Linked DNA regions of Homo sapiens. The protein of the gene in region 1 interacts with the protein of each later gene in a pairwise test. Each region holds a gene or a part of one and is shown in the gene's direction. Other genes may lie near its edges.

What was found.
Region 2: the proteins of UBASH3B (region 1) and SLC25A48 interact in binary tests that used the Homo sapiens proteins (3 or more experiments, as listed by UniProt).
Region 3: the proteins of UBASH3B (region 1) and CCDC74B interact in binary tests that used the Homo sapiens proteins (3 or more experiments, as listed by UniProt).

Annotation. Positions count from the first base shown.
Region 1 is NC_000011.10:122,804,148-122,814,019, forward strand, and holds part of UBASH3B (ubiquitin-associated and SH3 domain-containing protein B), read left to right. Parts: intron 1-2,262; coding exon 2,263-2,369; intron 2,370-3,919; coding exon 3,920-4,029; intron 4,030-5,601; coding exon 5,602-5,739; 3' UTR 5,740-9,872. UniProt on the Homo sapiens protein: Interferes with CBL-mediated down-regulation and degradation of receptor-type tyrosine kinases. Promotes accumulation of activated target receptors, such as T-cell receptors and EGFR, on the cell surface.
Region 2 is NC_000005.10:135,829,562-135,839,516, forward strand, and holds the start of SLC25A48 (solute carrier family 25 member 48), read left to right. Parts: upstream 1-5,101; 5' UTR 5,102-5,286; coding exon 5,287-5,332; intron 5,333-5,480; exon of another isoform or gene 5,481-5,704; intron 5,705-9,955.
Region 3 is NC_000002.12:130,141,552-130,152,414, reverse strand, and holds the start of CCDC74B (coiled-coil domain-containing protein 74B), read left to right. Parts: upstream 1-7,302; 5' UTR 7,303-7,418; coding exon 7,419-7,668; coding exon of another isoform or gene 7,669-7,794; intron 7,795-7,940; exon of another isoform or gene 7,941-8,075; intron 8,076-9,101; coding exon 9,102-9,146; intron 9,147-9,349; exon of another isoform or gene 9,350-9,432; coding exon of another isoform or gene 9,433-10,231; coding exon 10,232-10,282; intron 10,283-10,863.

The DNA of each region.
Region 1 (9,872 bases):
TGTCACTGTGGGCAGGGGATGGGCCTGGGAGATGAGGTGACATAAATGGTGATGGAACTGGGTGAGAGGTGGGGATGGGGACAGAAAAAGAGGAGAAAGCTTGCTCCAGAACAATGAGGTACAGCCCCAACAAGTGGTGATTCAGGTCTCTACCTATCCCCCAGGGTGTTGTGAGACTCAGAAGGCTGTTTCCTAGGAGAAACAGGCATGCTGAGAGAATGCAGGATATGGGCAAGTTTCCTTCAAGTGGAACGGCATCCTTCCCCTGGACAGTAAGCCGGTGTGCACAGAAGGCCAGGCTTAGCAAGGGCACTGTCAGAAGCTGTGTGTAGAGGATCGGCTCACAGGCCAGACTCCAGACTCAGATTCAAATCCAGATTCTAAGAGTTGCTAACGGTGTTAGCATAGGGAAGTCAGCTGCAGCCTTTCTGAGCTTCTGTTTTGTCATCCATAAACAGCATTTATGAAAGCATTGCTGGGAGGATTAGACCGAAGAAATGCAAGCAGGACACTCGCACAGAGCCTGACACATATGGGAACCTCAGTAAATATTTTCAGTGCTAATAGTAGTGGTAATAGCCTACTTCTGATCAAGAGGCCATGTGAATTCATTTTGAGAACTTACCACACCTCCACCAGGCACTAAACACCCAGCAGTGAAAGACAAAATATGAAAATTGACAAAATAAGAAAATTGAAATGACATAGTTGTACCCAGAAAACAAGATAAACATCTTGTGGACCAGAAACAACATAGAAACTCTACATAGTTAAGCGGGGGTGGAGGCAGGCAGAGGCAGGCCCCAAGGGCATTGGTGACTGGGTTTGAAGACATGCAGGGGCACCGGGACAGGAAGCCTAGCTTTGATCATCCTCTTCCATGCTGTGTTAGTTCGTTTTCACGCTGCTGACAAAGACATACCTGGGACTGGGCAATTTACAAAAGAAAGAGGTTTAACTGGACTTATAGTTACATGTGACTGGGGAAGCCTCACAATCATGGCGGAAGGCAAGGAGAAGCAAGTCACGTCTTAACATGGATTGCAGCAGGCAAAGAGAGAGCTTGTGCAGGGAACTCCCCTTTTTAAAACGGTCAGATTGGCTGGGTGCAGTGGCTCATGCCTGTAATCCCAGCACTTTGGGAGGCCGAGGTGGGCGGATCATCTGAGGTCAGGAGTTCAAGACCAGCCTGGCCAACATGGTGAAACCCTGTCTCTACTAAAAACAATACAAAATTAGCCGGGTGTGGTGGCGCATGCCTCTAATCCCAGCTACTTGGGAGGCTGAGGCAGGAGAATTGCTTGAACTCAGGAGGCGGAGGTTGCAGTGAGTCGAGATCGAGCCATTGCACTCCGGCCTGGGCAACAAGAGTGAAACTCAATCTCAAAAATAAAACAACAACAACAACAAAAAACAAATAACAAAAAATAAATAAATAAAAATTTTAAAAAATAAACCATCAGATCTTGTGAGACTTATTCACTATCACGAGAACAGCACAGGAAAGACCTGCCCCCATGATTCAATTATCTCCCACCAAGTCCCTCCCACAACATGTGGAAATTCAGGATGAGATTTGGGTGGGGGGCACAGCCAGGCCCCCAGGCCGGTGAGGGACACACAGTATCACATGCCTTTGTAGATTGTATAGTAATTATCATTTACATCAATAACCTCTTCACCCCAACCACAGGCAGAGAACTTTTCCAACACAGAAATTGAGTGGTCTTCATCTTTATGCTTTGCACTTCTCCTTGTGCCAAGTGTATGGTCTGTGTTCAAAATAAGAGAGAATTAAAGGAAAAGACTGGTGAAATTTGATAAACTCGCAAAGAATCAGATGGACCTAATATCTGCGTTTAAAACCCATCCTTGCTGCTCTTGAAGAGAGGTCTGGGAAATCCCTGCTGATCTAAATAGGTTGAGGGTTCCATCTCTGCTTTGTTTTGTATTAGCTATGTGACTAGGACCATCCATCAATGGCTTATTTGTTATCCCGAGAGTGAAACATGCACTGAATGTCTCATTTTTCACCTGGTCACTGTAACGCCATACACATAGCTGTTATTTCTGTACATTTCCACTCCATGTTCATATAGTAGAAATGCTGTTCCCTATACCTTTCTCCTTTCTAGGGAAATGGATAAACAAACAGATCTACGGGATCTTTAGAAATGCCTTGAAATAAAAGTTTAGAGTGATATCTTCCTTTGTCTCAAGATCAAAATGTTTTCATTTCCTTTGTTCATTTTTCTATTACAGACCTCACATTCCAATCAGCAAATTAGTTGTTTCAGAATCCTATGATACTTATATCAGTAGAAGTTTCCAAGTAACAAAAGAAATAATAAGTGAATGTAAAAGTAAAGGTAAGTGGTATTATTCTGAACTCCATCTGTACATACGTGATTATTTCTCTATAATGGTTAATAGGTTATTCAAGATGTTTCAACTTGCTTTGGCTAACCAAAGAAATGTATTTCCAGATTTTCTTCCAGATACTTTTACATTAAATTTGTAATATTCTCTGAGTTCCTAAAATGGTAGATATTCCAGGGGTTTATACCAGACTTAGTTACTATTCTTAATAACTTAAATTCTGCGTTATAGCTATTCTTCTTGCACCCTGTGAAAGAGATTCCCTCTTATAATTTCCAAAAGCTCTAGCATGCCACTGTTTTGCCTATAATTGATGCAGCGGCATGCACACCTACACACAGCACACCTACACAAACACATACACCTTCCCTGCTATCACCAACCAAGAGCAGTGTTGTATAAGGCTCAAGTGTGTTTGCTATTGAATTTTCTAAACACTGAGCTCAAATATTTAATATGTAAGACTGTTCACTATCAATTTTTTAGTGAAAAAGGCATATTGCAAAAAAAGTATGGACATTCCCTTCATCTCTTTTTTTAAGTTAAAATACTTATATTCAAACAGTAGGCAGCCATGAGCAACAGTATTATGAATGATTCCCACCTTCCAGTTTTCATTGATTAGCCACTCACTACCATAAAGGTACACAACATGTTCTATCAACCAGGAAGTCTCAAGTGCTCATAGTTCTATAGTGGGAACACTTAAAACTATGTTAGAAGGAGTTGCACAGACAGCCCTATGGACACACAACAGTCCTGTATCTTGATTGTCATGGTGTTACAAAAAGCTACACATATGATAGAATTGCATGAACTGTATCGTCACATATGCACAAACGACTTCTTGCACACCTGCTAAAATCTGAATACGCTGTGTGTATTGTACCAGCGTCCATTTCCTGGGTTTGATACTGTACCATAGTTATGTAAGATGTTACCATTGGAGGGGGATGGGATGAAGGGTTCATGGGATCTTGTCGGTATGTATGTATATGTATGTAACCCTCCCATAAATCCATAATTATTATTATTATTTTTGAGACAGGGTCTTGCTCCTGACACTCAGGCTGGAGCGCAGTGATGCAATCATGGCTCACTATAGCCTCAATCTCCTGGGCTCAAGTGATCCTCCCACATCAGCCTCCCAAGTAGCTGGGACTGCAGGCACAGGCCACCACACCCAGCTAATTTTTTAAAAATTTTCTATAGGGACAGGGTCTCACTATGTTGCTCAGGCTGGTCTCAAACTCCTGAACTCAAGTGGTCCTCCCTCCTCGTTCTCTCAAAATTACTGGGATTACAGGGATGAGCCACCACACCCGGCCCCATAAATCTGTAACTATTTTAAGATAAATGTTTTCTTTAAAAAGATTAAGCTGCCTTATCAGTAACAAAGCACTTTCAAAATATTGCTTAGGCAAATTGTCTTCTTGAGTGTGTTTGCTCCCCTGCAGAGCATTTAGTTAGCTTCCAGTATTTGCAAAGTTTCCATGTCTTTATAGAAACAGTCTTCCCATACCTTGCCATTTTCCCCCAGGAAATAACATCCTGATTGTGGCCCACGCATCTTCCCTTGAAGCGTGTACCTGCCAACTTCAGGGCCTGTCACCTCAGAACTCCAAGGACTTCGTACAAATGGTCCGAAAGGTAATTCATTCTCGTACTTTGGGGTCCGTGATGGCTAGTAGTTTGAAGTCAGTACAGTGACTGGCTGATTACCAAGTTCTTTGAAGCATGTGTTTATGCTGAGCTGGGAATATTCATTTATTGCTTCACTCAACCAAGATGTATTGAGTGATACTCTGTGCAGGGCACTTTATTAAGCCTTGTGTTAGAAAAACAATGTATGAGAGCTAGTTCTAGCTTCTAAGAGCTAAAATGTAGGAAGCAGCTAGGAATTATAAGCAAATTGTCTGGATTTCCCTGAGGGACCTTCTCTGAATTTCCCTGAGGGAACTTGGGTTGGATCAATAGAGGTCAGTCCAAAAGACAGCATCTGAAAGCTTAACTCAAACACAGGTCCTTGAAGGTAGGCCGAGGCATGCAGCAGTTTCAAATGAGGAGGCTAAAAGGCAAAGCCAGGAACAAGACAGCAAGACAGAAAACCCATGAGGCTGACCCACACATCTGGAGTCTTCCTTTCTGTGCCTGTGGGAGAGGTTTTCTGGTCAGCTGCCTCCCACACACTTCCCTTCAGGCAAATTACATACTTCCTTTCTCTGCCGCCAGAGAACCTGGTTCAAACTCAATTGCAATCTTTTTTCACATTTTTGAAAAGTTTATTTATGCATCTGTCCTCATTTGTAAGTGCTGGAAGACAGAGAATTTTGTCTTGTTTGTAAATGCAGCTCTGGACACAGACAAAAATAAGTTTTAAAATTGCTGTGACAACTGAAGTGAGGGAGAGCACAGCTTCAGCTTTGAATGTTGCAGAGACTCGTAAGGAGAAAAAAAAAACGGGTGAAACAAATTTTTTCAAATTGAAAAATATTTTCCATTGGGTCCAAGTATAATTTCAGAAATGTTTGAGCTGACTTTTTCTTTTCTTTTTTCTTTTTTTTTTGAGACAGAGCCTTGCTCTGTCACCCAGGCTAGAGCACAGTGGCGTAATCTCGGTTCACTTTAACCTCTGCCTCCTGGATTCAAGCGATTCTCCTGATTCAGCCTCCCACGTAGCTGGGATTACAGGCACATGCCACCACGCCCAGCTAATTTTTTGTATTTTTAGTATAGATGAGGTTTGCCATGTTGGCCAGGCTGGTCTCGAACTCTTGACCTCAAGTGACCCGCCCGCCTCGGCCTCCCAAAGTACTGGGATTACAGGCGTGAGCCACTGTGCCCGGCCTTGAGCTGCCTTTTTACCTGGACTTGCAATTGGGAATTAACTCCTGGCATTGTAGCCTTATGTATTTTGGTCCTCTTTTTCTGCCACCCAATTAAGCAGCAATCTATGAACAATGACTTAATTACTTTAGGGGAGGTCACCATTTAATGGATCCTTCTGATGAATCCTCTTGCAATGTAAATACTCTTCTAAGTTACCAGTTTTACCCATTTTATTTTATTTATCGATTTTTGAAGGGAATGCATTTCTACAAAGCCACTATCCATTTCTGACTGCAATTCTCTAGGGCCACATGAATATCTTTGTATTTAGGTAAAAGTTAAAGCATTAAACCTATCTCCTAATATCCCCTTTCTTTACGACTCTTACTTCAGATCCCATATCTGGGATTTTGTTCCTGTGAAGAATTAGGAGAAACTGGAATATGGCAGCTGACAGATCCACCAATCCTTCCTCTTACCCATGGACCAACTGGGGGCTTCAACTGGAGAGAGACCTTGCTTCAAGAATAAACCACACCAGTGAACAAGAAGGAAAGGCCTTTTGGAGTGTGTCTTTCTGTGTGTTTAAAAACAGTGGGAAAATCCACACCACACTCTAAGTGGACAGCTCAGAATAATTTAGCATATTTCCTTTCACACTTAAAGTTCTTAAGATGAGACTGTGTAAATGAGAGAAAGACTTGATTCAGAGGAAAAAAATGTGTTCTCTCTGGACTCTTGCCTAGCTCACAAGGCTTTGGAGAATTGTCTTCCTAAATCGGGGCACCTGCTACAGAAGAGAATGTTTCGTTCCCTCTGGGTATGCACAGCTAAGGGGCCTCATTTCTCCCAGAGGGAGCTGCTGGCCCGCTCTAAGGGGTGCAAGAGGAAGGAGTGTGCCCAGACCAGCTGGGGGAGCATTGAAAGGACAGCTTGGGGATGGAATTTTTTTTTTTTTATCTCCATTTTCCAGTTAGGTAGAGCCAAGCTGAGGAATCCTTTTAAGATTATTAGAAAACATGCCCTGAAGAGAGTTGTTCTTAGGTTACACATGAAATCCTACCGTCACTAGCCCCCATACACCAGTGTTGCTGGCTGAAGATACCCGCTTAAGGATGCTAACATTTACCCTGGTACTGCCACATTTTCTCTAGAGCAGCTGGCCCTTCTTGCTACAGCCCTATCCCCCCTCCTTGCTTCTGTGAAATGGGGAGACAAAGCACTTTTGCTCTCCAAAGCACTTTTGGATACTCAGGAGGAAAGATAAGATACATGTTTGAAGTATTCAATCATAGGAGCAAAGAACTTGCAAAATATGAAGTGACTTGGAATTAACCATGTTGTAGCCTAACGTGCTACTGCATTTCTAAATCATCAATATTTGCTTGTCTTTGCCCCTAGACTCTAGACTATGTTAACTAGTTAAGGATGTTACATTTTGAAAGGATGTATGTTAGATATATTATTTGCAGCAAGAAGTTCATTCTGTGCAATATGGACATGTTTGCAAACCATACCAAGGGTCAGGTTGTTGTACACTTACAGTACGTGTCAACCATAATGGAACATCCACAAATGCATCAATTATACCAGGGATGTATAGTAAGTCAGGGAACTAATATAAATGATGACAGTCATGGCTGCACTGCTACTTGTGCTGTCGTTTTGTTTGTTTTTCTATGATAATTTAAAATACATAGGTAGGGCTACTGAGGAAATTTGGAGAGCCACATTCTGTGGTTTCTCATTATACTTACTTCCTGCATTTAGAGGGAGTTTATTTAAAAGAAATAAATGACAATCAAACCAAATCATCAGTTATCAATGTCTGTTTAATTGTGTGACTATCTGACTGTTGATGGCCACAGATGATGGTCTCCTATGGTATAGTTCACTCTGTAGAAGATGTATGCAAAGTGAAATGCCAGCCCTTTAAAGAGACATTAGTTAGTGTAAAATGGATCTTTACATGTTGCAGTAACATTGACTATGTTTCAAAACTCAGATGCATAAAACGTAAGGTATATAAAAATACATCTATGCTTGCGTTTGAAACTACAACTTGATAACCCCTAGAAAGAAGAGGACATGAAAGGATGCTGGCTATATATGTTAATGAGCAAAAGGATTATAGTTGTTTTGTTTTGTTTTTAGAGACAGGGTCTCACTATAATGCTTAGACTGGTCTTGAACTCCTGGGCTCAAGCGATCCTCCTGCCCCTGTCTCCCAAAGTGCTAGGATTACAGGTGTGAGCCACCACACCTGGCCCATAGTTGTATTTTTTTTAGGTCACTTAGAAAAATATGTCATGTATTTTACATTTTGAGAAACAAATCAATCATGGTTTCTTCTAGCGTTGCGCAAACACTGACCCAGCTTCTGGGTATGGAAATAACCCTGTGATGATGTGTTAATATAAAATGTTGGGAGGGAATATTCCCAATAAAGGTCTTAAGAGAAAAGTCACATTACAAGTAATGTAATGGCTCTACCATTCATTCTTCTGGTATTTGTAATGAAGTGAATCCACTGTTTAATCAGATCCATAATCTTTAACAGATTCACCACAAATTTTCATGGGCGTTGAGTGCTCAGAATAATGCTTGAACACCTCACCTTGAAACTGTAGCAGTGTGTTCTGGGCAGTATCTGTAATGTATGAAATAGAGTCTGGAATAGGTTATCCACTCCATCTTCTAGGTTATCTTAGTTGTATGACGAACTGATAAATCTGTCTGACTGGGCTACAATCCATTGTTCTTAGTCCAATATGGACACTGCCTTAGGCAATGGTCTATATAAGCAAAAGGAGATAGAGATCTGAAATAATTTTCCGAATAATTCAGGTGGAAAACAAGAAAGATTGTATTTCTCTGCTTTCATTTCAATTTCATTATTTCAAATTGCTTGTCAAAATGGCCCAAAAGATCTGAATTCACATTAAGTTCCCCTTGCACACTTACCTATTTAAAAAACTAAACTTGCACTGCAACTGAGAAATTATTTGTAAATCATGTGGCATCTATGTATAATAAAAGAAAGAGACAACTATATTACTCAATTTCATATACATCCAAAAAGTATAGGCTAATATATATAACCTGAAGTTGCAGCTGGTTCTTTTTGATCTGAAGCTGATGCTTATTAAAACAAATGATGTATGGGGAGAGGAGAAGGAAGGGCAAGGAAGGAATTGACAGATAAGAAGCAAATGGTTTCTTGTACAGAGGAATTTTGTTTTAATGTAGAAAGTTATTTGAAATAAACTAGGTGAAATGAAATTAACTAAAGGTTTTAATCTGGGATTGAAAGCCTGAAAGCATTTCCTGCTTCTACAAGTGTGCCACATCAATCCGGTAATGCCCCAGTGTTATTCACAGACAGAACTTTGTTTCCTGTGATTTTAAAATACCGCGTCTGTTCCTCCATGGACCAGAGTAATTGGCACATTTTAATGCATAAGCTGGGGGTTTCATTTTCCCAGGCTCTCTTCACCATCACTGCATTGGTAGCTAGGAGCTTATTGCTTCACCCCAGTATGGAGTTCAGATTACAGTGTTTTCCATTACATTTAGATTCATAGAATCTGAATGGCTGATTAAATGGCCATCTGATGGCTGAAAGAGGGGCGTATTTTTCACTCTGTAGTGAAAGGCTTGGAGGAGTTTCTACTTTTTATTTTAATTATACTTTAACCAAAGAATTATTTTAAAGTAACCTTATATTTAAAAGATGATTTTGCAAAAAATAAAAAATAAAAAATATGCCTTCTGGAGTGATGTCTGTTTGGTAAATCATTGTTGATAATTTCCTTGTTAGTGGTATTTGGAATGCATATAGATTGTCTTGTCATTGTGCTTAACATTACCATAAGTGTGTCTTTTCCACTCAACTAGCTGTATTCGTATTAAAATGAAGTCTCTTATTTCAATTACCTAGTGTTGTTGGGAACTAATTGAACAGCTACAGTAAAAGAAGTTCCTATCTCATTGCCTTTGTGGAAAGGCTTCCCTATGTGGTAAAAGAAAGGCATTCCTCCGTAACCTAGGCACTCTGCAAGTCCAGTGTTTAATTTCAAAGCAGTGATGAATTGCTCTTTTGAAATTACTCTAAGTAATCCATGTGTTAGAATACAGATGAACCTCCGTTTGATTTCACAGCCTTCAGCACAGGCAACTGTTACTGAGTCTGCACGAACTTAGATAATGAGGTGCAGGGTTATTTGCATTTAAATTGCAATCCAGCACACGTGTGAGAAAGAAGAGGCACTAGTCTAAAAGGCTGCATTGCGGGGAGAGATGAGACAGGCAGAGGAGGGTGGGGTAAAGAGCGATTTAACATCTATTTAGGTTAATGTTCACTTTACAAAGGTGATGGGGGATATTTTGTTAGGTGATAGCAGAAGCTTTTCATTTTTAAACATAGAATTAAAATTGGATTTGCTTCTCTTTAATACTTCAACATATTGAATTTCCCTAGGAAAGTGACTAGCTATAATGAAAATTCAAGCGAAAAGGGAAAAAGATTGTAAATGCAGATGAAATAACTTCATTTTTAAGTACAAATAATAGTAGGATTGGTGTATGTAGGTTTAAAATTATAGTGATGACTAGTCGAACTTAATATACAATCAGTTCTTGCAAATACTTTACACTTAGCTGCC
Region 2 (9,955 bases), on another chromosome or scaffold:
GGAAGGGATGTTTTCCCCCTGATTAAACTGTTGCAGGAGTCCTATGAATATGGCACAGTTGGACAGTGTTAGTACCATCACACTGATAGTGGAGAAACTGAGGCAGAAAAGTTAGGGCATTTATGCAGAGGGGTGGGGGTGGGGGCAAGGGTCTTTGGGAAAGTCACTTCTACTTCCCGAGTCTTGGCTAGGAGGCAGCACTTTTTTTAATAGCATGGACCCTGGAGTCAAACAGCAGGTGTGACTTCATCATCCTCCACTGACTGCTGTGTGGCTTTAGAGAAACTGCTTGACCTCTCTGGACCTCATTCTTCTCACCTACCCAAGGAGAACTTGCGTCAGAGAATTCAACAAGATGGTGTAAACGGAGCATGCAGCACTGGGCCAGCTCGGAGCCCTGAGGTGGAAGAAAGCCTGGGACATTCAAGGCTTCGATAGATCTACACAGGTACAGAGATTGGGGTGTCGCCTCCCATCCAAGCACACAGTACTCAAACACCTTAGATGGGTTCTCATCAAGCTTCTCCGAGGTTTGCTCTGGCACCTCAGACTCCCCTCTGAGCCTCCTGGGCCAGCATCTCCTCCACGGCCCACACATATACTGAGTGTGGCTGTCTGCCAGCCAGTGCCAGGCAAACCGGGCCAGGAAACTATCCAGAATGAGCAGCCACGCTTGTCTTTTCCGCCCGAGAGCCTCAAGCGCTGCGCAGCAGCGCCCTCTCCTGGCGCATCTTGATGAGACCTCCGCAGCTGATATCCCCGTGGCCAAGAATTTCAGACTTCTGCAGACACCACCTAAGAGGAGATCGTCCTTACCTTCCAAAAAATAGAGGAAGAATTAAGGCCTGGACTTTCCCAAGATGCCCAGAGAGGCAGCAGCAGCACTAGGACCAGAGCCCAGGCAGCCCAGCTTTCCCGCCAGCTGCTTCACCCCCTCACTTCACAGCCACTTACCTCTGCTTCTTGACTGCCAGCCTCAAGCTGAACAGGTGATGGGCCAGATTCAGTCTGCACATGCTCTGCACATACTTTCCCAAAGTGCCATCAACAAAGGAAGAAATCCTGCTCCCAATGAGAAGCTCGAAAATCGTGTGCTCCTTTTCCTTCCCATCAGAGTCAAGGAGGGAGCTCAGAGCTCCCGTTGTCTGAGGCCAGTGCAGGAATGATGCAGCTGGGGCAAACACTCAAAGAAGAAAGACAGCACAAGCCCGTGGTCCGGTTTCATTAATCCTTTGAACTCGGTCCTGAGTAATTGCTGTCTGCCTGCTCTGTGGCAGAGCCCGAAAATGTCACGGTGGCAGATAGGTCAGACGGGTCCTATCTATCTTCCTGGAGCAACCAAGCATTGCACAAGGACTGAGCGGCATGGTGAGAGTTGGAAAAAGAAGCAGGGGTGCCTTGAGAGAGGGCAACCAGGTCGTGACCTCCTGTGAGGGGCCTGGGGAGGCCTCCTCATGCAGAAGATGCTTTGGTATAGATCTGAAGGAGGTAGGAGTCGGCTATGAGGAGGGCAGGGAGAGGGAGCTGCAGGTGGAGGGAGTGATCAGTGCAAAAGCTCTGTGGGGGAAATGTGGCTGGTACCTTTGAGGGCCTGAAAGAAGCCGGGCTTCTGTGATGCTCCAGGAAAGGCCAGGGGGAGTCCTCACACCTGGGAATGATGTGACCACCTCTTCAGCTCTGTCTTGTATCCAGACACCCTCCTTGTCTGCCAGCCACCAGCAGGACCTTCAGACTTTTCCCCATGTCTCCTCATTTAAGGCCCAGCGGACTAAGCAGTGACTGACTGCCCATCAGGCCTGCGCCAGGCTCTGCAGGTCCAGTGCAGAATGAGGCAGTACCCTCTTCTCAGTGGGCTCACAGTCTGGATGGGAAGACAATCAACCACTGAGTCTGACAGCAGAGATACAGATATGCTCAGAATATTCAGGAAACACAGATGAGATCTAGAAGATACCATGTGGCATAGGGTGATGAGGAAGGCCTTCAAGAAAGGCCTGTCAGGAGGTGACAGCTGAACTGAGTCTTAAAGAAGAAGGGGGCAGGGATTAGCCAGGGGAGGAGGGAGAGGGTGTTCCCCACAAGGGAATAGCATGTGCGCAGTCACACACATGCACAGAATGTGAGACATTGAGGTGCAAAGTGGAAAAGCAGCCAGACCCAGTCCTACTGAGCTACACACAACACACTGGGGAATTGGAATTTATGCTCAAGATCACAGAAAGTCATCAAAGTTCACTAAACTGAGCAGATTCAAAGTTTCAGAAGCTCACTGGGGCAGTAGGACAGGGGCAGAGGGACCCAGGAACCCGTGTCCACTGTGATCCAGGCAGGGCAGTGGCACAGGGCTGGGCTGAGCCACATTCGGAGACAGCAATGAGGGCTGGGTGTCATTGAGGGGATGGACACTCAGGACTTTGCGGCTGGTGGGATAAGACCTTGGGAGAGAGAAATGGAGGATGGCATCCAAGGTTCTGTTTTGGGTGGCCACTGGGTGGAGGTGTGTTTCTCTAAGTTGAAGAGGCACTGGCGGAGGAAGAGAGAGTTCATCGAGGGATGCGCTAAGATGACCCGAGCCACCCAGGTGGAGGTGTTGAGTAGAGGGATGTCTGGACTCTGAAGCAAGGTGTGGGGGTTATACGCTGAGAGATGGGAGGTACGGGTGGGTGAGGGTCCAGATGGGGCCCTGAGGAATTCACACCTAAGCATGAGAAGGGGCCATGGCACCAGGGAAGAAGATGAGAAGAGCTGGAGAAGCAGGAGGAAAGCTGGGTGAGGGCAGGAATCTGGAAGCAGAGGGGAGCAGGCGGCATGGGCAGCGCCTTCACTGCAGCAGGTCAGGCATGGACAGCTGACCCAGGCCTTTGCTGCCCGAGTGTGGCAGGTGGACATGGGGAGGGGATTGTTGGCTTGCCTGAGAGAGTGGTTGGGGAGGTGGGAGCTGTGGGGCTGTGTAGACTAAAGGTGCAGCCAGGAGACTCCAAGTTTGGAGAGCCTTCCCTGATTGCTTCCTGTAGAACGATGGACTCCCTCTCCAGTGCTCTTACAGCCACCTCTGTGTAGCATCTCAGATGGATTGTCTCCTCTCAAACAGAGACTTTCCCCAAAGCAAGGCACTAGCACAGACTGATGCTCAGGAAATTGCTGTGGCCTGAAAGGGTAAATAAGAAATGGGGAGTGGGCCACTAGTTAACAAATGCTATCAGCATAGCCCATCTGCATGTCCTGCTACTGAGGAAAGTGCTCTGAGAGGTCATCATTGGGGAAGGAACTGAGGGAGAAAGAAAATGGGGTTGCTTTCTGGCCCTAGTCATGCAGGGAGTGGATCTCTGTGGAGTTTCTTTCTCTCTGTAATGGCCAGTAGCTGCCCTGCCCTCTCCCGAGTGTAGAATGCAAATGTGAATGGCAGCACACTGCAAATGGTGCTCTGAAGTGCGAAGGCCAGGAAGAAGGGATGGCCTGGATCCTGGCCACAGAGCCAGCATTCTGCCTGGGCTCATAGCCCTGTGGTCTGGGATTCTCCAGGCCTGGCCATGGTTGCTGGTAAACCTAGGGTCCTCCCCTCACTTCCCTGGGTGATGCGCCCCATGGGCAGGTTTGTGGCATGCATATGGGAATGGAGCACAGTAATTCATTTTGGAAAGCAACCCACTCCTGCTCTGCTCCAGCTCGTTAGTAGTTCAAGCAGCAGCTTTCTGGGCCTGGGAGGCCATCCTGGGCTGCCAGGGACACTGCCTGCCAACGTAAGACCTCCTCAATTGGTGCTGACACAGGACTGAGGGGATGACAAACTGCCTGGCACCCCTTAGGTGGTCTTCCAGAGGAGTGGGTTTTGAGAATTGTCAGGCTTTCCACTTGTGGATGCATTCCAATGGTGAACTCAGTAAAAGGCCACTCTTCAGAGACCTGCATTTCTCATAGCAGCCCTAGGCATATATCCCGGGCATGACAGGGCACAGCTTGGGGTTGATGCTGATGGCAACTCTGAAGCCTCAAGACTGAGTGGGTCACCATAAGCAGCAGGAAGTTGAGGTGCCGGGATGGGGTGTGATGCTTCCACTCCTCCCTGGAACTTTGCAATACTTCCCTAGCCAGGCCGGCGACTCCATCCCGGGCTGTCCTCTCCCGATACAGGTCCACTCTCTGTGTGCCGGGGCAGGGGAGGGAGTGATGCTGCAGGAAGGTCCCTTCACCTCCAAGTCCCCACTCCTCAGTGGACAGGCCTTTGTAGGATCAAGCTTCGGTGGTCAGGCTCTGTCTTGCTTTGGAAGAAGGAGGTCTGGCTGGCTGTCGCTTCATATTAACCTGGATGACGTGACATGAATATGCCCAGTGGGACAAGAGCAGGCCCAGCAGAGGCCCCTTCCTCCTGACCATACCCTTCACCATTCTTGTCAACCTTGGGGTGTCTTGGCTGAGACCCACAGCTGAGTCCCTGCTGGAAACTAGCAGAACGCTGGGGGGCTTCGAGTCTTCTTAGGAAGGGAGGAAAGACACTCTCATTGTAATCAAAAGCCTCTCCGCACAGCAGGCCACTTCTCCAGTGAGCACGGACCCCTGGCCTGGGGCCTGGCTGAATGTAGGGTCTGCCTACAGAGAGGGAGTTTGAGGTACAGAGCACCACCTCTGCCTTCTGTTGGCCCAGGGCGGACAGTGTAGGGTGAGCCAGGGCCAGGCAGGGAGCTGGGCCCCTAGAGAGCTGTAGCTGAAAGTTAGACATGACCCTGAACCACCAGGTGCCTGCTCTAGGCACGGGGTACTGAGTGGGACATGGCTGAGATGAACAAAAAGGCATCACTGCCCAGAGTTGGGATGGGAGAGAGTCCACAGCTGATTGGAATCAGCATTGTCAGCACAGCACAGTACAGGGAGATACGCGCATTGCCGTCTCTGGATGGGCGGCTGGCACTTTCAGTTCAAAGGCGCTGAGGCTCTGAAGTTGGCAAGGAAGAGGATAACCCGGAGAAGGGAGGACTAAGAGAATTTCACTTGATGACCCTTGCCTCTTTGTGTCTGGGATGAGCCGCGCGGAGCGCACCCTTATCCACCCAGAGTGCTGTGCCTTTAAGGTCCACTGGGGGCGTGATGTCAGCCGCCCTCCGGCACTTGGAGAGGTGAGCGCGGCAGCCCGCGCAGCCGGTGACTGGGGGACTGGGTTTGGAGTAGGACCTGCGGCGTGCTCGAGACTCCGACTTCGGTCTTGCGGCGCGCTCGCGCCCGCGGGCCATGCCCCACTGACTCTAAGTGGGCACTGCCCCGGCTCCGGGAGGGCGAGACCGAGCGCCGGCCATGGGAAGCTTCCAGCTGGAAGACTTTGCGGCGGGCTGGATCGGAGGTGAGTGTGCTTACCGGGGACCCCCGGTCAGAGAGAGCGAGCCTGGCGGAGTTTGCCTCTATGCTCTGAGGAAACTTTGCCTCTGTGCGCTGCCATCCCGCTCCCCGTTGTGCGCGCAGCCTGCTTTGGGGAGTGCCCGGCCCCGAGATCCCCCTGGTGGTCTTGCAGTTGCCAGGGCTAAATTCTGAGAGCTTCACAGCGTTTCGGGCTGAGCTTCTGATTTGCTCATTAAGTTAGGATCCGTGGGACTTGATGAGGTAATGATTAAACAGCTCGTCAAAGCCCACAGCCAATGGAGGCTCCTGGCGGCGCACACACCCTTCAGTGACCTGGTGCACACCTGAATTGCGGACGTGGCTCGCGGGAACTTATGTATGAGGGTAGCGCTTGGCTGCTGATCCCGGGGCGCAGGGTGGTGGGAGCCAGGCTTCGAGATTAGGCCGGCCCAACGGGGCGTCCCGACTGGAGGGAGCAGAGCTCTCACAGCAGGGAGCGGAGCGCCGGCTGCAGGTGCCCATTGCCAGGCTGCGAGGAGCACTTATTGCCTTCAGCCGCCGCCAACCGTCAGCCATCGCCTACCTCCAAGGCCCCTTCTCCGGGCACTGTTGGGTCTGCTGATCCCTTCGCCACAGCTCCCGAAGCCACTCTTTTACTGGGCCTGGGATGGGTTGCCTGGGCGAGAGTTGCATTCATTTCCTTGCTTCTCCATTTTTCTTTCCAATTGGTCTATCCCTCTTTTCTCAGCTATTAGGAAAGGGGGAAGTTTGAGGGACTTTGCTAATTGTAAAAAAAAAAAAAAAAAAAAAAAAAAGTCTTTCTTTGGACCCATCTAAAAGGGTTATCCTAAAAGGGATGTTGGCAAATGTAGCCCCTCACCAAAGGGGTGAAAAAATAAGATGAAAAGAACAACAAACCAGATTGGATCCCAACTCCTCCCCTCCTACCTAGCAGGAGACCACCTCTCTCCCGAGACCGGTGGCTGCAGGGCCCTGCTTCACACCTTCCTGAGCAGAGGTGGCTCCTTTCACCTTGAGTAAGTCTGTTGGCACAGATGCCCTTGGGTGGGGCTGAGACCCGCCTCTCCTAACTTTCCCAGTTAGGGGGCTGCAGCCTGAGGCCCGCTGGGCATATCCAGGTCCTTTTTGACTGGACAATTATTCCACCATTCAGCGGGGCAGGCAGAGAGAGGAGACACTTCCGTGGGCTGCCCCTTAAATAAGCAGACCACCTTCGGTAGGGATGCAAATGGCTTGGTTTGAAAAATGCCCTGGAAGGTAGGGCTGAGTCAGAGTAGTTCCAAGACTCTGATACCCCTCCCCATCCCCAAACGTGATAACATGTGAACCCTCCCCGACTCACAGCAAGTAGGGGATTTTTGTGCTTTATTCTGGTCCTTACTTTGGTGATGTTATTGAAAGTAATGGCAAAAATCGCAATTACTTTTGCACCAAACTAATAACATGGCTTTTTTTTTTTTTGGCTTCCATGAAATGATGGTAAGTGTTTACTACACTTGAATACTTACTAGGTGCCAGGTATAGTTTAAGTGCTATATGTATTCTTTTAAAACAATTTTATCAAGGTTTATTTTATGTATTATAAAATTCACCCATTTCAAATGTACAATTCAATGTCTTTTAGTAATTTTACAAAGAGGTGCAACCATCACCATAAATTTGTTTTAGAACATTTTCATCCCCCAGTAAGATCCCTCATTTGAAGTTGAATGCTGTTCCCTCTCCTTAATCTCCTTTCTGTAAATTTGCCTTTCCTGTATATGTTATGTCAATTGAATCTTGCAATATGTGATCTCTTGTGTCAGTTTATGTATAGTTCTTTAATTATTATAACAACCCCAAAGAGGTAGGTACCGTTGCATCCTTATTTTACAGATGAGGAAACTGAGATACAGAGAAATTCACTGACTTGCCTAAGACCATGCATCTAGCATTGGCACCAGGATTCCAACCCAGGCTGCCTGGCACCAGAATCTGCCATCTTAATTTCATCTTAACTCTTTCTGAACAACCTTGCATAACAAAATTTTGCCCTTTTTTTGATATTATCCCCCCCCCCACCCCCCCCCCCCACACACACACACATTTTGTTTGAGATTTTACTGGTTTGTGAAGTGCCAAGGTCTGGAAATCACTGACCTTATAATCCCATTTTTTTAAATCTCAAATCCCCTGCTTTCAGATGGGTGGGCTAATAAGTGGCAGGGAGATGTTGGCCCAAGGCTGGATCTAAGCCTGCCCTGAGCTGAAGGATGTGTGCACTCACTATGGGGGAAGCCATGGAGCCTGAGGACCAGCGCACCTCCCCCCACTACTGGGAAGGGTTAATTACTGCCATCACCTCTCTGCCTCTGCCCAGTTTAGTAGGTAGGAGGGGATAAGAGGGGACAGGTGGTTCTGGACCCAGGGAATCATTGTTCTGGGATTAGCTGGTTTCTTTGTCCCTATAAATATCTAATATTCCAGGAGCCCTTAGCTACCTGGTTAAATCACCTCTACTAACACAGATATTTCCTTCCTCCTCAGTGTTCTCGGGAATTTGTCTTTGAAGAACAGTTTCCCTTTCAATTTCAGTCACTAACTGCTGCAACAAGGCTGATACGGTTTGGCTGTTTCCCCACCCAAATCTCATCTTGAATTGTAGCTCCCATAATTCCACATGTCATGGGAGGGACCCCTGTGGGAGGTAATTGAATCATGGGTACAGGCTTTCCCATGCTGTTCTCATGGTAGTGAATAAGTCTCATGAGATCCAATGGCTTTATAAAGGGGAGTTCCCTACACAAGCTCTCTTTTTCCCTGGCACCATGTAAGATGTGACTTTGCTCCTCTTTAACATTCTACCATTATTGTGTGGCCTCCCCAGCCATGTAGAACAGTGAGTCAATTAAATCTCTTTCATTTGTAAATTACCCAGTCTCAGTAATGTCTTTATTAGCAGAATAAGAATGGACTAATACAGTAAGTTGGTACCAGTAGAGTGGGATGTTACAGTAAAGATACCTGAAAATGTGGAAGCAACTTTGGAACTGGGTAACAGGCAGATGTTGGAACAGTTTGAAGGGCTCAGAAGAAGACAGAAAAATGTGGAAAAGTTTGGAGCTTCCTAGAGACTTGTTGAATGGTTTTGACCAAAATGCTGGTAGTGATATGGACAATGAAGTCCTGGTTGTGATGGTCTCAGATGGAGATGAGGAACTTGTTGGGAACTGGAATAAAGGTGACTCTTGCTATGTTTTAGCAAAGAGACTGGTGACATTTTGCCCCTGCCTTAGAGATCTGTGGAACTTTGAACTTGAGAGAGATGTTTTAGGGTATCTGGTGGAAGAAATTACTAAGCAGCAAAGCATTCAAGATGTGATTTTGGTGCTGCTAAAAGCATTCAGTTTTATGTATTCACAAAGATATGGTTTGGAATTGGAACTTATGTTTAAAAGCGAAGCAGATCATAAAAGCTTGGAAAATTTGCAGCCTAACAATGCAATAGAAAATAAAAACCCATTATCTGGGGAGAAATTCAAGCCTGCTGCAGAAATTTGCATAAGTAACAAGGAGATAAATGTTTATCACCAAGACAGTGGGGTAAATATCTGCAGGGCATGTCAGAGACCTTGGTGACAGCCCCTCCCATCACAGACTCAGAGGCCTAGGAGGAAAAAATGGTTTCCTGGGCTGGGCCCAGGGACCTCTGCTCTGTGCAGCCTAGGGACTTGGTGCTCTGTGTCCTAGCCACTTCAGCCATGGCTGAAAGGGGCCAAGGTACAGCTTGGGCTGTGGCTTCAGAGGGTGCAAGCCCCAAGCCTTGGCAGCTTACACATGGTGTTGAGCCTGTGGGTGGATAGAAGTCAAGAATTGAGCTTTGGGAACTGCCATCTAGATTTCAGAGGATGTATGAAAATGCCTGGATGTCCAGGCAGAAGTTTGCTGCAGTTGGCTGCAGGGGTGGGGCCCTCATGGAGAACCTCTGCTAGGGCAGTGTGGATGGGAAATGTAGGGTGGGAGTCCCACACAGAGTCCCCACTGGGGCAATGCCTAGTAGAGCTGTGAGAAGAGAGCCACCATCCTCCAGACCACAGAATGGTAGATCCACTTACAGCTTGCACCATGCACCTGGAAAAGCCACAGACACTCATTGCCAGCCTCATGGGTATTATAATTTTTTATAAAATTATTTTTTAAAAAAGAAACCCCATTTCCTTTCTCCCTCAGTTTCTTCCCTGATGGTGACCTCTCAGAGCACTTTCCTTTGCAGTGGGGCATGCAGATGAGCTATGTTGATAGCATTTGCTAACTCCTGGGAGACACTCATGCCAGCAGCTGGGAGGAAGGCTGTACTCTGCAAAATCACAGGATGGAGCTGCCCAAGACCATGAGAACCCACCTCTTGCATTAGTGTGACCTGGATATGAAACATGGAACAAAGGAGATCATTTCAGAGCTTTAAGATTTGGTTGCCCCACTGGATTTCAGACTTGCATGGAGCCTGTAGCCCCTTTGTTTTGGCCAATTTTTCCCTTTTGGAACAGGTGTATTTACCCAATGCTCGTACCCCCATTGTTTCTAGGAAGTAACTAACTTGCTTTTGATTTTACAGGCTTATAAGTGG
Region 3 (10,863 bases), on another chromosome or scaffold:
GCATCTGGAGGAAACGCAACCAAGAAAGGAAGGCAGGTGGGCCCCAGCAAAGGAGTAGCTGCCAGGGCTCAACAGCTACGCTCTGTGACAGCGCAGAGCTCAGCGGCGGCCTTTCCCTCCCTCCGCCAAGGACTCACGGCCAAGCCAGCTCTCGGGGCCTTTTTTCCACTGCCCATTTGGCTACTCTGCTGCACCAAGCTTGGGAGCCAGCCTGCCAACAGCCACCTGGGCCTGGCCTCCCCACTGGCTGGCCTTGAGGTTGGCAGAGTGGGTTGTGGCGCTTCCTCTCTCTGTGTGGGACCAGGACAGTGGCTTAAGTCTCCACTCCAGGAAAGAATCAAAGTTTCTAGAGTTGTGAGAAAACCAGAGAGTGGCTGTCCTGATTCTTCACTGTGAGGGGCGTTCTTCATGTTCTCCCAGCTGTTCCAAGACTGGGCCGTAGAATTCCATGTTTCAGGAGCCTAAGACCCTCCCAGAGCCCAGGGGCTTCACCGCAGACCCCAAGCCATTGAGCACATCACCCAAAGCAGTGGCCAACATCGCGGACCCCTGTGCCTTGTCACAGATGGGTGCTGGTCCTCAGGCGTTGGGGACACTGCTGGGTCGATGGGGTCGGATTCTGCCAGTTTCTGCTCTGCAGCCAAAGATGGTCAGAAGCATTGTCACTTCAGTAACATCAAGTGCTCAAAGACATGGCAACCGTTCAGTGGTACTTAAGTATTCAAAATATACAACTACAGATTCTCTGACAGAAACCAGCACGGGGTCTTCACCTTCATTCACCCCACAGGCGACATGCGAGGGAGAACAGCATCTCAGTGGTGATTTCCAAACCAAGCCTTTGTTTTCGGTGTGGGGTTTTGGGGGTTTGCTTTAATGTTTTTGAAATTGTAAATGTTGGGCTTTGTATTTTGATGTAAACTGAGCATAATGGCATTTTAGGGCCTGTGACCAAAAATGAAGCTTGTAACGACCATGGATCTGAATAAACATGTCCTTGCTTCTGAGTCTTCTGGCACCTGGGCTCAGTCTCTAGGAGGTTCACCTGTACAGAGTCCCTGAGCACACGGGGGCTGCAGAAACAACTGTTGGGCACCCTGTCGGCCCCTCCCGCTAGTGTCCACAGGCCTGGACCTCTGGCTTCCTATGCTTTCCTCTCTCAGAGGCACAGTAGACTTTGCCCTGCCTTTACAAAAGATTCAAAAAGTTAGGCATGGCGGTTCACATGTGTGGTCCCAGCTACTTGGGATGCTGAGTTTGGAGGATCATCAGGGTCCAGGAGGTCAAGGCTGTAGTGAGCCTTCATCACGCCACTATACTCCAGCCTGGGTGACAGAGTGAGACCCTGTTCTCAAAGAAAAGCTGACCACCGGGAACATGTGCTGCCAAGTCTATGGCTTCCAGAAGCTCTGAGGATTGCGGGAGTTGCTGGGGGCTGAACTGTCTGGCCAGGAGCGGAGGGCAGACAAAAATGCATTGAGAACCAAGAACAGCAAAGCTGAGTGAGGGGTCAGGGTCTTGGTGGCTGGGACCTGGACAGCGATGGCCACAAAGCCAGCTGGTGCTCAGTGGCTTCTCCCTGGGGAGCGAGGGCAGCAGTGGGCAGCTGGGTTCCAGCCACTTCCAGGTGGGGGGTAGGGACCTCGCCAATAAAATGGGATTTAAATTTTGCCAAGAACTCTCACTGTAGAGAAAATGGGACTGCTGGGATGAGAGCAGAAGCAAAATGCAGTTGGGGGGGCCCGGCCAGGAGGCACTTGTGAGGGACTTCCGGGGAAGGACGAGTTGGAGCAACTCAGGGGAAGCAGTTCTGTCTGGGGCACAAGGAGGAGGGAGGCCAGGCTGGAGGCAGGAGCTCCTGCAGATTCTTGTCTCCACCCCTGGATGCTTCCAGAGTGGTTTGCCCTAACTGCCACTGCCACCGCCTCCTCAGCTCCTAGGATGCCCTTGACTTTTTGCCATTGGGCCACACTCCCCTGCTAACAGGCCAAATCCGATGCTTTTCTGACCACGTGGCCCAGAGACTCTGGCAGCGCAGCTTCAGCCTGTCCTGACACCACCCCTGCCCCCGCACCTCCGCATCGTCCTCCTTGCCCCGAGACAATCCCGTTCCCTGGATCCCATTCGTGGCCCACTCCCTTCCATGATCTACCGCTAGGATATACCAGCGCCCCCGTGATCCAAGGTAAGTCAGATTCTGATCATCTTGTGCAAGCAACTCACAAGCAGAGGCCCTGTGCAGTCGGGAGAAATCTATACCTTTCCCCTTGGACATCCAAGAGCAAGTTAGATCCCCTAAAGGCCAGCTCTCACCAATAACCCTGACATTTCCAATATAAATGAGAGAGAACTCTCTGTTTTGAGACAAGGTCTTGCTATATTGCCCAGGCTGGAGTGCACTGCACCATGACAGCTCACTGCAGCCTCTTAACTCCTGGGCTTAAGCAATCCTTCCGCCTCAGCATCCCAAGTAGCCAGGACTACAGGCATGCGCCACCGCACCCTGCTAATTTTTAAATTTCTTTGTAGAGACGGGGTCTCACTGTGTTGCCAGGCTGGTCTTGAACTCCTAGGCTCAAGTGATCCGACCGCCTCCGCATCCTGAAGTGCTAGGGTTACAGGTGTGAGCCACCACACTGGAGAGCGGACTCTTATGTAGCCTTCACTGTAAAAATTAAGCTAGCTTCCCTTGACTCCCAAAACCAGAATTCCTAGCATAATTTTCTCAAGTCACAAGGTGCGAAAATATATCAAATTATTTCCCAGTCAAGAATTCCTACTTTTGGCCAGGCGCAGTGGCTCATGCCTGTAATCCCAGCACTTTAGGAGGCTGAGGCAGGAAGATCACTTGACGTCAGGAGTTTGAGACCAGCCTGGCCAACATGCTGAAATCCCATCTCTACTGAAAATACAAAAATTAGCTAGTGTGGTGGCGCATGCCTCTAATCTCAGTTACTTGGGAGGCTGAGGCAAGAAGATCGCTTGAACCTGGGATGTAGAGGTTGCAGTAAGCCGAGATCGTACCACTGTACTCCAGCCTGGGTGACAAGAGACTCCTTCTCAAAAAATAAATAAATAAAAAAAGTGATAAATTGGCAGCTGGCGCCAGGGACAGGCCATTTCCTGATGGGCCACACCTATTTCACTAAAGTGTTAATTGAATGCAGATTCCAGGGAGAATCAACTTCCCAGGCATGTGCATTAAGAGACAAAGTGGTGGAGTATGACCTTCGGGGGGCACCCCACCCAAAAACCTCAGATGGGCATGCATACAGTTTCCTAAACACACTGCATGTGTTTAGGAACTCCCAAGGGTAAGGAGGGTACTGTACATGTGGGCAGCCCACCCTAAGGGAAGGATCATGGGAAAGGGGCCAGTCTAGAAAGTCCTAGGATCAAGGTTAAACACCACACTTGACTTTCATGTGCCCACTTAGGTCTCTTCCAAGCGTACTTTCCTTTCTTTCCTGTTCTAAAGCCTTTTAAAATACACTTCCACTCCTGCTCTGAAACTTGCTTCGGTCTCTTTTTCTGCCTTATGCCCCTCAGTCGAATTCCTTCTTCTGAGGAGCCAAGAATTGTGGTTGCTGAAGACCCATCCGGATTCACTGCCAGTGACTTGGACACCTTCCACTGCTAACACTATTAACTCGGACACCTTCCACTGCTAACACAATAACACTGGGTTATTGTGTTTATTTGGAGAGTGCGTATGGTTTAAGGAGATGTGTATGGGTGCCAGGTTGACAAGGGGTGGACTTGTGATGGTTAATTCTATATGTCAGCTTGTCTGGGCCACCGGATGCACTCATATCTGGTTACACATTATTTCCTGGCAGGTCTGTAAGGGTGTTTTCAGAAGAAAGTGGCATTTAAATTGGTGGTGCAAGCAGCCATGCATGCATTTCTGGAGTAGCTTCCCTATAGCTTGCAGGAACCAGAGCGGGCAATAAGAGCCCCATCCTCCAAATACTGGGGATCTGTGCTCTGATTGATGATGGCTGCTGTTGATTGTGAAAATGCAGACAAAGAGGCAGGCAGCCACTGCTGCAATCTCCACTGCTATGTTTGCAACGTCCCTCCTCAACCCTCACTGCCTCCCTGGGTACACACCTTCCAGGAGGTTTTTATGGATCAGCACCTCCTCCTGCCTTCATTTTTCTTTTCTCCTTCTTGGGAACCAGATGTTTAGGACTAGGACATTCAAAAGCAACCATATACCAGGCACAGTGGCTCATACCTGTAATTTCAACACTTCTGGAGGCTGAGGGAGGAAGATTGCCTCAGCCCAGGGGTTTGAGACCAATCTGGGCAACATAGCAAGACAAAAAAAAAAAAAAAAATTAGCCAGGCGTGGTGTGTGCCTGTAATCCCAGTTACTAGGGAAGCTGAGGCAGGAGGATGGCTTGAGCCCAGGAGTTCCAGGCTGCAAGTGAGCTATAATCGCGCCACTGCACTCCTGCCTGGATGAATTTCTCTCCACTCAGGATATCCTCCCTCCCAGCAATAATATTGCTACCATTCATTCCAGCTATCCATAAACCATAATTACTAAATACATGTTGCCATAATTTTTTTGAACAACCTGTCATCTATTAAAAATAATAATAAAGATTATATTTTATTTTACTTTATTCCTTCTCTAATGCACTTCCCTTTTTTTAGATCCAAATTTCCTATATCTTTTTCCTTCTTTTTTTGAAACAGGGTCTCTCTGTGTTGCCCAAGCTGGAGTGCAGTGGTGCAATCACGGCTCGCTGCATCTCAGCCTTCTCAGTAGCTGGGACTGCAGGTGTGCACCACCATGCAGGCAAACTTTTTAGTTTTTTGTGGAGTCAGGGTCTGGCTATATTGCCCAGGCTGGTCTCTAACTCTTGGGCTCAAGAGATGCTCCTGCTTTGGCCTCTCAAAGTGCTGGGATTACAGGCATCAGCCATGCACCTGAGTTTTCATTTCTGTTGTGTTTTTGACTTCTTACATTTTCTTTTAGTTTTTTGAGATGGAGTCTCACTCTGTTGCTCGGGATGGAGTGCAGTGGCAGGATCTCAGCTTGCTGGAAACTTCACCTCCTGGGTTCAAGCAATTCTTTGGCCTCGGCCTCCTGAGTAGCTGGGATTACAGACATGCACCACCATGCCTGCCTTTCTTTTTTCTTTTTTTTTTTTTGAGATGGAGTCTTGTTCTGTCGCCCAGGCTGGAGTGCAGTGGCATGATCTTGGCTCACTGCAAGCTCCGCCTCCCGGGTTCACGCCATTCTTCTACCTCAGCTTCCCGAGTAGCTGGGACCACAGGCGCCCACCACCATGCCTGGCTAATTTTTTGTATTTTAGTAGAGATGGGGTTTTACCGTGTTAGCCAGGATGGTCTCGATCTCCTGACCTCATGATCCGCCCGCCTCGGCCTCCCAATAATTTTTGTATTTTTAGTAGAGATGGGTTTTCACCATGTTGCCCAGGCTGGTCTTGAACTCCTGACCTCAAGTGATTCACCCACCTCGGCCTCCCAAAGTGTTGGGATTAGCGGTGTAAGCCACTGTGCCTGGCCAACTTCTCACATTTTCTTTTCTTTTCTTCTTCTTTTTTTTTTTTTTGAGATGGAGTCTTACTCTGTTGCCCAGGCTTGAGGGCAGTGGCATGATCTCGGCTCACTGCAACCTCCACCTCCTGGATTCAAGCAATCCTCCCACCTTAGCTTCCCAAGTAGCTGGAATTACAGGTGCATGCCACCACACTAGCTAATTTTTGTATTTTTTAGTAGAGATGGGGTATCACCATGTTGGCCAGGCTGGTCTTGAGCTCCTGACCTCAAATGATCTGCCCAACTCAGCCTCCCAAAGTGCTGGGATTACAGACATGAGCCACCCTGCCTGGCCTTCACATTTTCTTTAGATTATTTCTTAGAACGTCTACCTCTCTGTTCCCATTATCAGTCTGTAATCTCATGTTGTCCACTTTTTCCATTAGAGCCCTTAGCATATTAATCATAGTCGTATTCCATTTCTTGGTCTGATAATTCCAACATCTCTGCCATATTTAAGTGTGGCTCTGATGCTTGCTGTGTCTTCGAACTGTGTTGTTTTTTATTATGCCTTGCAAGTTTTTGTTGAGGGCTGGTCATGCTCAACCAGTAAATGGACTTTCTGTGTGAAGTTTTATGTTGGTCTGGTTAGGGGTTGTGCCATGTGTGCTGTTTGTTAACTGGAGGTGTCAGAGGCTTAAACCTCCTCTAGTGTCTTAGTTTTTGTCTCCCTGTTGTCTTTACGGTTTCCTAGAGATTTCTCGAATAAGCTCTGAGATGAGCAGTTCTTTCACTTGTATCCCCTGTTATTATACAGGAGCCCCGCTGATGTGGCAGTAAGATGTGGGGAAGGAGAGCCAGAGCAGGCTGGGGTTAGCTATGTTCCCTTCCTCCAGGTTTGTTGGTGTCTGGCAAAATTATGATTGGCCTGGCTGTGATTTTTTTTTTTTTTGAGGGCAGGCCTTGTAAAAAAAAAAAAGACTTTTTATTTTTATTATTTTTAAATTTATTTATTTATTTATTATTTTTTTTTTTTTTGAGACAGAATCCCACCCTGTCGCCCAGGCTGGAGTGCAATGGCGCGATCTTGGCTCACTGCAACCTCCACCTCCTGGGTTCAAGTGATTCTCCTGCCTCAGCCTCCGGAGTAGCTGGGATTACAGGTGTGAACCACTGCGCCCGGCCTCTTATTTTTAGGCAGCATCTCACTCTGTCACTTAGGCTGGAGTTCAGTGGTGCCATCATAGCTCACTGCAGCCTCGACCTCCGGGGTTCCAGCAATCCTCCCACCTCAGCCTCCCGAGCAGTTGGGACTACAGGCGCAAGCCACCATGCCCGGGTTTTTTTTCTTTTAATTTTTATAGAGACAGGGGCTCACTTTCCATCCAGGCTGGAAAGGATGCCTTTTATTATTATTATTATTATTATTATTATTATTATTATTATTTTAGATAGAGTCTCTGTCGCCCAGGTTGGAGTGCAGCGGTGCGATCTCGGCTCACTGCAACCTCTGCCTCCCGGTTCAAGCTATTCTCCTGCCTTAGCCTCCGGAGTAGCTGGGATTACTGGCTCCCGCCACTACGCCCGGCTAAATTTTGTATTTTTAGTAGAGTCGGGGTTTCGCCATGTTGGTCAGGCTGGTCAGGAACTCCTGACCTCAAGTGATCCGTCCGCCTCGGCCTCCCAAAGTTCGGGGATTACAGGCGTGAGCCCCGGCGCCCAGCCCTGGATGCCTTGTAAATCACTACTCACCCAGGAAGAGCCAGCGACAGGCCCCGCCCCCGCCAAACGCCTGGCGCCCTCCGTCGCCCGGTTTCCATGGTGACGGGGCGCCAGGCTAGGGCGGCCTGGCCACTGAGCCGGGGTGCAGTGGCAGCGGGAGAGTACCTGGCGATGGCGATATGAGCGGTGCGGGGGTGGCGGCTGGGACGCGGCCCCCCAGCTCGCCGACCCCGGGCTCTCGGCGCCGGCGCCAGCGCCCCTCTGTGGGCGTCCAGTCCTTGAGGCCGCAGAGCCCGCAGCTCAGGCAGAGCGACCCGCAGAAACGGAACCTGGACCTGGAGAAGAGCCTACAGTTCCTGCAGCAGCAGCACTCGGAGATGCTGGCCAAGCTCCATGAGGAGATCGAGCATCTGAAGCGGGAAAACAAGGGTGAGCCGGCGCGGGGCCCTAGGCCGGCCCTGCCTCCCCAGGCACACTCAACACTGCCGCTCCCGCAGCACAGAAACACAGCCATCAACTCCAGCACACGCCTGGGCTCAGGGGGAACACAGGACGGTAAGCCCGCCCTGCCACGCTGAGCTGTCCCCTCCTCCCAGAGGGAGACCCGCGTGGCCCCCGGGCAGTGCCGAACCTGTCTGCCTGTCTCCTAGGGCAGCAGCATTTCAGATGCTGACTCCGCCAGTCCTCTCCTCTCCAAGCAGGGTCAGACACACCTCTGTTAAAAACTTTATAGAGGGGCCCGGGCGCGGCGGCTCACGCCTGTAATTCCAGCACTTTGGGAGACCGAGACGGGCGGATCGCGAGGTCAGGAGATCGAGACCATCCTGGCTAACACGGTGAAACCCCGTCTCTACTAAAAATACAAAAAGTTAGCTGGGTGTGGTGGTGGGCGTCTGTAGTCCCAGCTACTCGGGAGGCTGAGGCAGGAGAATGGCGTGAACCCGGGAGGCGGAGCTTGCAGTGAGCCGAGATCTTGCCACTGCACTCCAGCCTCGGTGACAGAGCGAGACTCCGTCTCAAAAAAAACAAAAACAAACAAACAAAAACTTTATGCAGGGAAACGTGCCCAAGTGCGAGTGCGCAGCTCAGTGAATTTCTTCCAGCTAAACACATCGGATCAGGAGCAGGCATTCCCCCGCCCCCCACCCCGTCCCCGCTTCGCCTGTGCCCATGCTGTCCTCCGGCGGGGCCTTCCCAACTGCACCCTTAGCTGCTCCTCACCCCCACGCCCCCCTTTCTCCCTCCCTCCTCCCCCACCCCTCCTGCCCCGAGCAGGAGGAGGGCCCGCCAGGATGTGGGATGTGGCTCCGCTCCTCGCTCTTGCTTCAGGAGGGCTCCAGCAAGGGCACCAGTGCCCGCGGCCTCCTCTCCCGCCCCGTTCCCTGCTGCTGCCTTACCTGAGTGCCGAGTATCCCATCACCAGGCGTCTGTTTTGTCAGGACCCCGCTTCCCCATGTCTTCTTGAGCCTCAGGACGCCCCGTTCCTCATATCTTCTTGAGCCTCCCCCCAGTCCCTGATGCCCACGGGATCATGACACCGCCATAGCCAGGGATTCCAGAGTTCACCTCTGTACCCCTAAAGCCCAGGTTCTGCCTGGCAGTGTGGACGCCCTCCAGTCATCTCAGATGGATGAGGCTGATATGCCAGGTGGGCTCTGCCTAGGGAACAGGCAGGGGCCACTCCTGGCCTGACACCCACGACAAAGGCATGGTGGAGAGCGGGATCCATGGGGCAGGGCCCAATCAGCCAGTGGGGGGGCAGGACTTTCGGGCTCAGCAGCCAGGAGAGGACAGGCCAGGCTTCTTCTCTCAGAATGGCTGTGGTTTCACAAGTGCTGAGGAGAGCGTGTGCTTGCTTTCAGATCTCCGTTACAAGCTCATAATGAATCAGACATCACAGAAGAAAGGTGAGAACTGGGCCCTTCAGTTCCTGATGGGATGCTCTTGCCACCCAGGGGAGCCCCTCCAGACTGTCCTTGCCCACCTGGCTGCACTGGCCCCTGTATGCCAACCCAGTGGGGACAGGTTCTGGGGGACCTGGACAGATGCCGCTACCTCTAGCCGTGGCTGGATGATGTTACGCAGCCAAGCACAGCACGTGCTGCTCTCAGGAAGCCCAGGGCCTGAGGTCATTGCAGTGGGGAGGTGGGCACAGGGTGCTCCCCAGACCTCCCTCCTCCAAGTAGAGCTGAAATGGGAAGGAACCCCTGGGACAGCCCCTGCCCTGCTAGATCTTTGCCTCAGATTGCTGCTGTGGCCAGGCCCAGGATCTCCAGCCCTATGGCTCTGAGTCCTGACATGCTGGGGGCCCAGGGGCTCTGGACACACTCCATCCAGGGATCCCTTCCTGCCATCTGGGCAGCAACCATGGGGACAAAGGGAGGAAGCAGAGTCCTGTTTCCTTGCCACTTGTCCAAGGCACTTCCCCATCCTGACAGCGGCCCCCACCCAGCCCAGGATTCTGGGTTGTGGTCTCGAGCTCACTTCCCGTTATCTTTGGGGCTGGGGCTGACATCAGGAGGACATCTGACTGGTGGATGGAGCCAGCCTGGGAACATCGTAGCTGGGGCAGTGCCTAGGGCTCTCCCTTCCCAGAGAGACATGGAGAATGGGGTTGAGGGAGGGCCCTTCCCTAGCCGCTGTGGCAACTCCAGTGAGCTGTTCTGGGCAAAGTGTGGCCCAAGTCGGCAGCCCCAGCCCTGCAGTGCTGGGGACGCTGACAGGACACGGGAAGAGGCCATGCTCTCCCTCGGGACCTGCTGTTCCATGTGTCCCAAGCCCTCCTGCTTTCCAGATGGCCCCTCAGGAAACCACCTTTCCAGGGCCTCTGCTCCCTTGGGCGCTCGCTGGGTCTGCATCAACGGAGTGTGGGTAGAGCCGGGAGGACCCAGCCCTGCCAGGCTGAAGGAGGGCTCCTCACGGACACACAGGCCAGGAGGCAAGCATGGGCGTCTTGCGGGCGGTAGCGCCGACACTGTGCGCTCTCCTGCAGACAGCCTCTCCACGTCAAGCTTCCAGTCTGTCAAGTCCATCTCTAATTCAGGTGAGCAGGCTGGCGTCCATGTGCTCACAGGGGTGAGTGCCCCACGGGGACCCCAGCCTGGGTGGCCTCTAGGGGTGCTGACCAGGTACCCTCTGCTGGGCCAAGCTCCAGGATTTGGGGATGAAGGTGCAGCTGAAAAGAGCCCTGCAAGCTGAAGCCACCGGGAGGGGATTAAGGGGGGGTGGGCAGGACCAGGGACCAGTCACAGGGCAGTAAGGCCTCACAGCAGGCACCCCAGGGTGGGGCAGCAAGCAGGCAGGAGGGGCCTCCCCGGGTGGCCGCCTAGGGAGGACGTACCCTGGCTGCCCAGCAGCAGCCCTGCTTGGCCGTGTCCCCGCCACAAGCAGGCAGGACACAGGAGGGATGGCACTGCCCACGGAGCCCTGGGCTCATGGCACCTTCTGCAGAGTGAACTGGGAGCAGAGAGCCTCTTTTCCCCACTCTGTGAGGCCGGGCATTTTCCTCAGCCCAGCCCTAACCCTCACCATTCCTGTGATGGGCCCAGGTGCTGGACGGGCCTTGTCCTTGCCGAGGAAACCCATGCAGGCTGGGTCCCAAGCCTCTCATGCAGTTTCATTTTA